Linked DNA regions of Homo sapiens. The protein of the gene in region 1 interacts with the protein of each later gene in a pairwise test. Each region holds a gene or a part of one and is shown on either strand. Other genes may lie near its edges. The genes, in order: GIMAP1, TM4SF19 and CLEC10A.

The links.
Region 2: the proteins of GIMAP1 (region 1) and TM4SF19 interact in binary tests that used the Homo sapiens proteins (3 or more experiments, as listed by UniProt).
Region 3: the proteins of GIMAP1 (region 1) and CLEC10A interact in binary tests that used the Homo sapiens proteins (3 or more experiments, as listed by UniProt).

The regions. Positions count from the first base shown.
Region 1 is NC_000007.14:150,714,697-150,718,446, reverse strand, and holds the start of GIMAP1 (GTPase IMAP family member 1), read right to left. Parts: upstream 1,835-3,750; 5' UTR 1,757-1,834; intron 1-1,756. UniProt on the Homo sapiens protein: May regulate lymphocyte survival. Required for normal levels of mature T-lymphocytes and mature B-cells.
Region 2 is NC_000003.12:196,336,823-196,340,572, reverse strand, and holds the start of TM4SF19 (transmembrane 4 L6 family member 19), read left to right. Parts: upstream 1-2,184; 5' UTR 2,185-2,309; intron 2,310-3,750. UniProt on the Homo sapiens protein: Negatively regulates vacuolar (H+)-ATPase (V-ATPase) activity by interacting with members of V-ATPase V0 complex and hence inhibiting V1-V0 complex assembly. Required for multinucleation during osteoclast differentiation.
Region 3 is NC_000017.11:7,078,418-7,082,167, forward strand, and holds the start of CLEC10A (C-type lectin domain family 10 member A), read right to left. Parts: upstream 1,835-3,750; 5' UTR 1,635-1,834; intron 469-1,634; 5' UTR 396-468; coding exon 329-395; intron 1-328. UniProt on the Homo sapiens protein: C-type lectin receptor involved in recognition of N-acetylgalactosamine (GalNAc)-terminated glycans by myeloid antigen presenting cells (APCs).

The DNA.
Region 1 (3,750 bases):
TTTTCTTTTGGAAATTGAACAGATCTCCCAAGTAGATCTGGAGGGCCCCTAACTCTGTTTTCTTAAAATCAAATAATTTGGTTTGTTTAGAGATGTCTAAATACGATATCTGTGCTGGAGAGACTTGAACACTTCCCTTCAACTCCTGAAGTTGCTTCCCCTCCAAATGTGATTATGCTGAAATCTAACATTGTGTAATACAGCTAAACCCTCTGTGATCCAGTTTGCCTAATCACACAAGCTCCTGAACACAAATTCACTTCTCCCTGCATCTATGTCTCCAGCCTCATTCCCAGACAATACCCCACTCGGTCAGCTACTTCACAATCAGCAGATTTCAGGGCCTTTCCAACCCACTCGGCTTCCCCTCCTAGGACTATTGATCCTCCCCGACCATCTGTCTGTGCCTCACCATCCATGTCAAACTTGTTGTGTCTTGCACCCTGGTCACTTGGATACCTGTGTTCTCTCCCATTGGCACCACACATGAAGGAGGGGCAGAGAGAGAGGCTGGCTGAGTAACTTGTCTTTGATTGAAGGACTTGGAGAACAGATTTGCCTCATATTAAATCTAGAGCTGTTTCTGTTTCTGCAGGAACTCTACTGGCCCTCCCCAAAGCCTTCAATAAAATTCACTCCATGGGCCTTATGTGATTAATTATTTTGCATGTAGGAATGAACAGATGATCATAAATGACATCAAAGCAGAAATGAAGAAACAGTTGCAAGATTCAGAGAAAAGAATTTAGATGAAGCAAAATGTCCTTGTCAACCAAGAAAATGAGAATTTCTTTTTCCAGTGCTGCAGAATTCTGGATAGGCCTTTGGAATTTTCCATAGTTTAGAAGAGGGGTTGAAATGATTTTAAATAGTTTTTTTTTTTAAAGGAAAGTAAGACCCAGCTGAACTCTGAGGTGACAAATGGCCCTTAATCATTGAGGAATGTACACTTATAGAATCCTGTATTCCTAACACTTTAAGAGACCGCAAAGTTTATTGAGTTCTTCACCGCTCAAATGTGCTGCTTCTCAGAATTACTTGAATGTTCTTTAAAAATGTACATCTCTTGGATCCATCCTGAGATTCTGATTCATGAATTAAATGTTTCTGATGTCCACAGCTCAGAACTTGGACATCAGTCATTTTTGCAACCCCCTTTATTGTACAGATGGGAATTTGAGGTGTCCCCGTGGCTGGAGCAGGAGAAGCTTGAATTAAGGGAGCAGATGTTTAAGGGGCCATGCAGGGAAAGGGGTTGAAGACCAAGATATTAATCTCAGATGTCTCCTCAGGGGCCCCTTCTGTGGACAGTGAGGAGGAGAGTTCAAATGTACCCAGTCTTGTCACGTCGTAACTCACTCCGAGGTTAGATGGCTTATGGGGCCATAGAAATATCTTTTGCCTTTGCTCAATAGGGAGCTTGAGGAATGTTTAATGCCTTTCAAACTGTATTTTATTCCTGGAGGTGGTTCCAGCACACTCTTTTCTTACTTTGTTAAGGGAATGTGGGAGGAGACAGATTTCACTCCCCACCAAGAACGTGTGTGCTCCAGAGCTGGAGAAGATGATCCTAAAATTTCCTCTGAACTTTGCCTACTTAAAAACCTGGAAGTATGTCCTTGATTGTTCCAGATCTTGCTCGCCTGCATGATGCCTTGTAGAATGCAAGTGTTCAGGCAGTAAACACTCTAGGAATCATGTTCTTTCTGGTTCTCAGAGCACCCCCAGCCCCCGCCACTCCCAGGCTCAGGCTCACCTTTCCTGGTGACAGGCTCTGAAGTTGGCCACAAGAAGCCCCAACCTGCTGCTTTCCCTTCGGCTGTGAGTGCAGAAGGCTGTTTCCTCTCGGCACACGGAGGAAATCACTCAGACTTCAGAAATCAGGAAGCTCAGGGTGGGCCCCATGGTTATGGTTTAAAGAGACAGAAACATTTCCCATTGAGCTGTGGGTTGGCAATACTTCTCCTACCGACTCTACTTTCTGCTGTGACTGAGGTTATGTGTCTCCAGCAGGGCCTCATGATGTCAAATATCTTGCCATGCTCTAAGAAGGGAGGGATGTTGTAGTCTCTGAGGCCTGACTGTACTTCTAAAATTGATTACTGAGCTAATCTTCAGTTGCCTTTGCCCTATAGGGACATTTCCCCATATAAAATAGGCCCAGAGAGTCTCCTGCCCCGGAACAAATAACGTAATAGCTGTTCTCATCATCTGTCCATTAATTAGACATTCATGTGGCCAGTGCCAGCCCCAGATCCAGTCTGCCAGAAAAACCTGAAGGCAAAGTCTTATCATTCTCTGAGAGAGGAGGGCTTTCCCAGCTATTGAAGGACTTGAGGGTGAACTGGTATGTTGAGGATGAACACCTTCGCACTATCTTCAATTTAGCCTTATTAGGAGGCTTTAGTCTAGTCGTCTATGTTGGTATCACCAGTTCTAGTTATTCTATCTTCTCTCAAGAGCATCATGAGGTCAGCAAAAAAGCGAATCACTGGGTGGTAAGAAGGCTACAGAGGAGCAGGCTGCATATCTGGTTAGGTCATTAACCAGCTATAGGACCTCACCTAACTCATTTAAACTTTCTGGAGTTGGCTTTCTGGAGTATATGGGGAAGACAATAACCCGAGTCTTACCCTACTGGATAGGATCTGCTTTTTAACCTCTTTCATGCCAGACCACTTTTTTTCTGGTAGGGAAGAGACCCAGCTTTTACTGTTTCCCATCTTTTTGGGGGCACAGAGTCTCCTGGATATCTGACATGTCCACTGTTTCCATTCATCATTGCTGAAACAGGGAGCCTGTCATTCTCCCAGTAGACCGGCAGGGCTGGGGCTATTGTGAGGCAGGTGGGGCATCTAGAGCACACAGCTTAAGGAGGCACTCACTCTCAGGTCACCCAAGTGCAGATCTTGTAGGTGGGTGACCCTGGGAGTGAGTGTTTTCTTAAGAGTGAGGTGCCTAGGGCTTCTCACTAGCCTCATCCTAGCCCAAGCCACATAGATCAGCTTTGAATAAGTCTTTGATACTTGACGTGTACCTTTCATAAAGACGCTTTCAGAGCCTCTTCAACAGCTCCGGGCCATTTATTGTTTCCATGCATGTGTATGATGTCTTACTTCAGCCACTCATAACTCTCTGTCAGAGGGTTTATCTGACTACAAAAGTATATGTAGGTAATGCATGCAGCAGCCTGAAGTTGTCAGAGCTGATATCCTAGGAGCAGATTTCAATCAATGTCAGTTAGGACTTATGGATAAACACCACAACTTATCAAGTTGTCCACCACGTGAGACAACTCTGTGATGTACTGCATACAAATTGCTGAGTCCCCAGCAGGACTGAGACCCAGTTGTCTGCAGTGGGAACATCCTCATCACCGTATACAGTGGTAATGTGCTCATTAATGCAACTTGCATTGGCTACTATCCCTTCCCGTCCCACATTTCCACTTTCCTACTGGTGCTTTCTGGGATCTTCTTCCTATTGAAAAGTAACCGTTTCTGTCTTTATTTTCCTCTACATTTCTATTAGCTCTTGATTATGTCTCACTGTCTCTGGGCTTTGTTGCCTATTATTATTCATTGATACTTACTATCAGTTGTGGAAACCCAGGTGAAGCTCAGACCCTGACTACACTTGAGTCTCAGAATTATATCTAGAACTCCGGCTTCCTTTTGTACCCTGTATTAATGCTTCCTTCCTCTCTTTCCAGTCTTTGCATGTTCATTGTTTTCTTCCGTATCCTTATAA
Region 2 (3,750 bases), on another chromosome or scaffold:
TTGTGAGAATGTGTAGAAACTGGAACTGTCACACACTGCTGGTGGGTGTGTAAATTAGGACTACTTTGGGAATCTGTTTGGCAATATCTGCCAAAATTAAATATTCACCTGCCCTATGATAGCAATCCTACTCCTAAGAATATTCCCTGGAAAAATTAGTGCATAGTTCCTTCAAAAGACATGCAGAAGAATATTCATAGCAGCATTATTTATAACAGGCAAAAGTTGAAAATATAAATGTCCATTAAGAGTAGAAAAAGTTGTAATATCCAATGTAATAATACTCAGCAATAAAAGAAAAATAAATTACATGATGGATGAATCTTACATATAGAATATTGAGTGAAGAAAGCCACACACAAAAGCCATACTGGGCTGGGCGCGGTGGCGCACGCTTGTAATCCAGCACTTTGGGAGGCCGAGGCAGGAGGATCACTTGAGCCTAGGAGTTCGAGACCAGACTGGGCTACATGGTGAGACCCCATCTGTACACGAAATTAAAAAATCAGCTGGCGTGGTGGCGCTTGCCTGTGGTCCCAGCTACTCAGGAGGCTGAAGTGTGAGGATCACTTGAGCCTATGAAGGCAAAAGGCTGCAGTGAGTCATGATTGTGCCACTGCACTCCCGCCTGGATGACACAGCAAAACCGCCTTTTTTTTTTTTTTTTTTAAAGAAAACTGTTTGATTCCATTTATGTGAAATTCAAGAACAACTAAAACCTAATCAATTATTATAAGAGCCAAAATGAAAGTTAACACTGGGGACAAGGGATACGAATGACAGGCGACACAATGAAACCTCTGGGGATTTGGAATGTCCTGTATCTTGATTTCTGTGCTGGTTCACCAGGGTATACATGTAAAAATTCATCAGACTTTAACATTAAGATTTGTGCACTTTAGGCTGGGCGTGCTGGCTCACACCTGTAATCCCAGCACTTTGGGAGGCGGAGGCGGGTGGATCGCCTGAGGTCGGGAGTTTGAGACCAGCCTGACCAACATGGAGAAACCGTGTTTCTACTAAAAATACAAAATTAGCCAGGCGTGGTGGCACGTGCCTGTAATCCCAGCTACTTGGGAGGCTGAGGCAGGAGAATTGCTTGAAGCCAGGAGGCAGAGGTTGCAGTGAGCTGAGATTGTGCCACTGCACTCCAGCCTGGGAACAAGAGTGAAACTCCGTCTCAAAAAAAAAAAAAAGAAAAGAAAAGATTTGTGCACTTTACTGTATATAATATCTAGATGTTTAAAATGCAATGGGAGCATAGAGAAAGAAGTACCTAACTCGGAGTAAAGAAATCCTGGCAGACTTCACTGGGAATGTTTGAACTGAATCTTGAATAGGAGCTTGTCCATAGAGGGTCACGGATCTCCCACACAGAGAGCACCACAAAATCCTCAGCAATTTGGTGAGAGTATGGTACAAGATGATAGTGGCCTGGGGCTTGAACAAGAGGCTGAGTGCGGTGGCTCACACCTGTAATCTCAGCACTTTGGGAGGCTGAGGCGAACACCTGAGGTCAGCAGTTCGAGACCAGCCTGGCCAAAATGGCAAAACCCCGTCTCTATTAAAAATACAAACATTAGCCGGGCATGGTGGCAGGTGCCTGTAATCCCAGCTACTCAGGAGGCTGAGGTGGGAGGATTGCTTGAGTGTGGGAGGCGGAGGTTGCAGTGAGCCGAGATCATGCCACTGCACTCCAGCCTGGGTGACAGAGTGAGACCCTGTCTCAAAAAAAAAAAAAAAAAAAAGTTAGACGTCTAGTACAGGAACCATGCAACACATCGAGTCAGCCAAGGGCAAGGTAAGGAGAGTGATGAGGAAAAAGGGGTGGCTGCCCTGCTCGGTGCTGTTCTGTCAAAGAGCCGAAATTCTTCGCGGGGTGGCAGATGAGGACAGGAACAGCTGGGGTGTGGCAAGTGTTGCTGCCTGGGGAGAGCGGAGGGTGAGGTGTTTCTCACGGGTGCATCCAGTGACTCATCAGGACAGCGGAGCTCATGAGGCCATGTCTCCCGTTTCCTGCCTTAGAATCACATGAAAATGAGCAGAGGGTGGGTCATCAGGACAGGGCTCTCCGGGGAGCGGAAGCGCCTTCAATGCAGGCCTGTGGGCAGGGGCGTGGGGGCGCGCACACACACACGCCTGGGTGACCTCTACGTATATACAGAGCCTCCCTGGCCCTCCTGGAAAGAGTCCTGGAAAGACAACCTTCAGGTCCAGCCCTGGAGCTGGAGGAGTGGAGCCCCACTCTGAAGACGCAGCCTTTCTCCAGGTTCTGTCTCTCCCATTCTGATTCTTGACACCAGATGCAGGTAAGCAGAGATGAAAGGGTGAGGTGACGGCCAGGGAACAGCCTAGCCTCACAGATGAGAGTGCACGCTTCCACTCCAGTGAGCCTGGCTCTGCAGCTTGGCGTCTGTGTGACTTTGCGCCATTCACTTACCTTCTCCTGTTGCCTCAGTCTGTCAACTTCTGGCCTTTGCACCTAGAATACTCTTCCTGCCTAGTATCTCATCGTCCATCAAGTTTGGGCATGGGCAGCCCTTCCTCCGGGAAGCTTCGTTTTGCTTCTGCCAGATAGGATTAGGTTCCTCCATGTGCTTCCATGACACCTTAAGTTGGATGCCCCTGCCTGGTACTTACTGTTACCAGCTGTGAATCCAGCGAGTCTGCAGCAAACTCAATCCTTGCCTTCTCGGGGGAGAGATTCGGCTGAGGGGCAGAAGTGGGTTTAAGGCAGAGGGAGAGGCTGAAGCAAGTTTGAGAGCAGGAGTGAAGGTTTATTAAAAAGTTTTTGAGCAGCAATGAAAGGAAGTAAAGTACACTTGGAAAAGGGCCAAGTGCGTGACTTGAGACACCCAAATGTGCTGTTAGACCCTTGACTTGGCGCCTGCCTGCCGCACAGGCACTTGGGAGGGGCCGCATGCGCAGTGTGTTTACTGAAGTCGTGCGCATGCTCACTTGAGGCGTTTTTCCCTTACCCGCGGAGCAGCACTAGAGGAAGGTCACACACACCAGCTAAACTCCACCATTTTGCTTCTTAGTGTAGATGCTTGAGCCCACTCGCCCAATTCCTGAGCTCTTACCAGGAAGCTGCTGATCACCAAGTTCAGGTATTTTCTATCTATTGGGAGACTGTCTTTCCCAACGCTGGCTGTGACCAATATTATTTTAGAAAGACAGTGTAACAACCGCCTGGCCATCACCTGATAGTCACCTGACATTACTGGGGTAGAGGCCCTCTCCCGCCCTGCTCATGTCTGCTCTATTTCTTACCACACTTGATTAGAATTACTTTTTGGCCAGCCTGACCCACATGGCGAAAACCCATCACTACTAAAAATACAAAATTAGCCGGGCGTGGTGCATGCCTGTAATTCCAGCTACTTGGGAGGCTGAGGCAGGAGAATAACTTGAACCCGAGAGGCGGAGGTTGCAGTGAGCCAAGAGCATGCCGCTGCACTCCAGCCTGGGCAACAAGAGCGAGACTGTGTCTCAAAAAAAAAAAAAAAAAAAAAAAAAAAGAATTGCTTTTTGCGTCAGCAGTGTCCCCACTAGACTTTAAGCTCCTCAAGGAAAGGGATTACATCTTTTTCATCGTTATATCCCTAGCCCCCCAAGTGTCTGTCAGGTAGTGATCACTTAATAAATATCCGACTGAAGGAAGAATGAAAGAAAAGCCTTGCTGGGTGGCGAGGGAGAGACACAGATGTAGAGAATGTGCGGTCTCTTCCTCCATGGAATTGAGCCGAT
Region 3 (3,750 bases), on another chromosome or scaffold:
CATGGGCTTATGCTCACCTACCTGCTGGACAATCAGGTTCACAAATGAGTTTCCTTCCAAACCCAACTACTTATCTTTCCCTCCACCAATGCGCAGCTCTCATCCCCACCCCACAGAGCATCAGAAGCTGGGTCCACTGTGATCCTCCCTGTCCCAGTCTTTCTAGAGACCTTGCATCCTCTTCACACTAGGCCCGTCAGAGGCTGGGGCCTGACCTCCTCAGAGTTAGGACCCACCAGTGCGCGTGGTGGAGGTACAGAAATGATAGGAGAAATCCTTCTAAACATATAAAGAGGGCATTTTAGGAGAGTTTCCCCTTTCCTCTTACCATTTTTAAACCCCTGGACTTTCACCTTATTCTCCAAGTACTGGAAGTTTTCATACGTCCTTGTCATGCTTGGGCCAACACGGCTCTGAGGTTGTCACAGCTGAAATGGAGGCAGGGCCGGCGCCCAGTCTGGGGTGGAGCTGGGGAATAGGAGGTTGGGACTAAGTTGGAGCCAAGGGCAGGGCTGACGTTGAGTTGGGAGATGAGGCTCAGGTTGAGAATGAGCCCAGGGTTAAGACGGAAATGAGCCTGGGTTTGCAGTCGAGTTAGAATTGGGGTCGAGTTGAGTTTGGGAGTGAAACTGGAGGGTAACGTTGGAGCTAAACGCATTGCTAGGACTACCCAGTGGGCCAGTTAATCAGGCAGGACTGGAGGTTGTATCTCATGCTAGGATTGGGGTCAGTATGCACGTTGGAGCCATGGATGGAATTGGGGTTAACTTTGGTGGTGAATTTGGAAACAGAATAGAGTCGAGGTTCAATTTTGGCTTTGGGCTGGTGTTAAAATTCAAGTTGATTCTGGGGTTGGGGTTGAAGTAGGAGCTGGGTGGGGGGCGACAGGTGCGGTGGCTCACGCCTATAAATCCCAGCACTTTGGGAGACCGAAGCAGACAGATCACTTTAGGTCAGGAGTTTGAGACCGGCCTGGCCAACATGGTGAAACCCCATCTCTACTAAAAATACAAAAATTAGCTGGGTGTGGTGGTGTGCGCCTGTAATCCCAGCTACTTGGGAGGCTGAGGCAGGAGAATCACTTGAACCCAGGAGGCAGAGGTGGCAGTGAGCCGAGGTTGTGCCGTTGCACTCCAGCCTGGACGACACAGTGAGACTCAGTCTCAAAAAAAAAGAAAATGTAGAAGCTGGGGTTAGTATTGGGATTAGGGCATGGCTGGGCTGAGATGAAGATAAGGCTGGAAATGGGCCACCAATGAGGCTGAGTCTGAGTCTTAGTTTATTTTTATTTTTATTTATTTATTTTTTGAGATGGAATTTCGTTCTTGTCGCCCAGGCTGTTGTGCAACGAGGCCGTCTCGGCTCACTGCAACCTCTGCCTCCTGGGTTCACAAGATTCTCCTGCCTCAGCTCCCGGAGTCTTAGTTTATGACAGGGGATTGTGGCTGCCGTAACCCAATCTAGAATCCAGTGAAGGGAACAGAGTCTCAAATCTCCACGTAGTAATTAAACCCCACACTGCCGCCTTATATTTATTTTCATTTAGTCCCACCCAAGACCCAAAGTCCCCCTCTCCCTGCTTCCTCTGACATCCCCTGTCCCCTGGGTCTCACCGGCACCGGCAGCACCATTACCTGTGGGAGGTCTGGAGGGTGTGATTCCCACGTTGGTTGTGCTGCAAGGACCAGAGGTGGGACGTCACTCAGAGTTGGGAGCGCTGTGTCCTGGAGAGCTGGGGTAGAGGTGACTGGAGTCCTGCTGGTCTTGGGTCTGAAATCCCAGGAGCCCTATCATCTGGGACATCCCATCTCCTCAACTTTAGACAGTAAATGAGAATGAACAGGGATTAGAACACACAGAGACCATGTGTGGGTGGGGAGAGTTGGGTTTGAGGCCAGCTCTGTTCTCCTCCTCCAGGCCATGCCTACTTCCTTTCCTCTTCTCGGAGCTTCCTCATTTTTACCATCTGGGAGCAGGGCTGGATCAGAGGTACAATCTGCTGTTGCTCCTCTACCCTACACTTCCTTTCACTTCCTGCCTCTACATTTCCCAGAATTGTTGGGTCTCCATCATCGCACCTCTGATCCTAGAGAAGCCCAGTCTGTTCTCTTGCTCAATCCTGGCCTGAGTCCCTGGCATCAGCATCCTCTGGGTCCCAGTCATTCGGCTGCTCAGCTGTGGCCTCGCTCGCCTCACTCCACTCGGAAGGAGGGAAGGGGGTGCCAGAGAATAGAACTTCTTGGCCCTAATAGGACGGGAGAAGCCAAGGAAAAGAGCAAATTTTATTGAGTAATCTGTGATAGGATTATGCCAGACATTTACCTTCCACAACCATTCCCCCCAAGCACCTGGGGAGGCATTTTGGATGACGGACTAAAGGCTCAGAGCCCAAGATCACTCACAGCTTGTAAGGAGACAGTTTGGCACCCTGCTCTGGCTCTCAGCACAGGCGCTGTCTTCATGAACAGGATTCCATTTCATCCCATGATCCCTGCTCAACCCCTAAGGGAGCTGCCCTGAATCCACGCGCACATCCCTTTCAGTAGGAAGGAAACTGAGTATCTTACAAGGTGGAGAAGGAGAAGAAATACATTTTAGGTTATATTTTGTATGTACATGGGGTTGTGTTCTGCTATGTGCTTTTTTTTTTTTTTTTTGGAGTTAACAAGCTATCAGGAACATTTCTCCACATCAGTTTATAAAATGTACTTGATCTACCTGCACCTCATTTCATCATAGGCACCGTAATTTATTTATTTAGCATTTCTCTATTGACAGAAATAAATCAGAAATTTAAGTTGTTTCTTTTTCTTTTCTTTTTTATTTTATTTATTTATTTATTTTTTTGAGACAGAGTCTCACTCTGTTGCCCAGGCTGGAGTGCAGTGACACAATCTCGGCTACTGCATCTCCTGGGTTTAAGCGATTCTCCTGCCTCAGCCTCCCGAGTAGCCGAGATTACAGGTCCCGCCACCACACCCAGCTAATTCTTGTATTTTTAGTAGAGAGGGGTTTCACCATATTGGCCAGGCTGGTCTTGACCTCCTGACCTCACATGATCTGCCCGCCTCAGCCTCCCAAAGTGCAGGGATTACAGGCGCGAGCCACCGCACCCGGCCAGGTCGTTGCCAGTTTTGTTTTTATTTGGTATTCGGTATTTTGATTAGTATATGTCGCAGGTTCGGTTTTTGGAAGCCAAGGTTGAGGCTGAATTTGGGGTACAAGCTATTTATTAGGGATTAGCACTTCGAAAAGGAAAGTGGATGAAATGGTGCTGGGCAGAGGGAGAAGCCCAGCACTTTGGAGAGCTTCAACCAAACCAACAGGGAGCTCTGGGTTCAAACAATGCCACCCCCGGGAGCTGTCCAGCATTGGACTGCCACAGGGTCCTGTAGAGCACCAGCTCCTTCGGTCACTGGCAGTCAGCCCTGACATGGGTGTGACCTCAGGAAGCAGCTGTCTGCAGGTTACACTCCCCACAGTGGGTCACCACATCCTTCCTAGAAGGGGGACCTGGGTAGCTCTCTGTGTGTCTACCACAGTCTTGCAGTGTATTCACATATTAATTTGGAGATAATCAACATTTTGACATTGTTGAATCTTCCATGAAAAGAACATGATATTTCTCCATTCACTAACTTTTTTTTTTCAGTCTGGTTCAGTGGGTTTGAAGCTTCTTTTTTTTTTTTTAGTTCTGGGATACATGTGCAGAATGTGCAGGTTTGTTACGTAGGTATACGTGTGCCATGG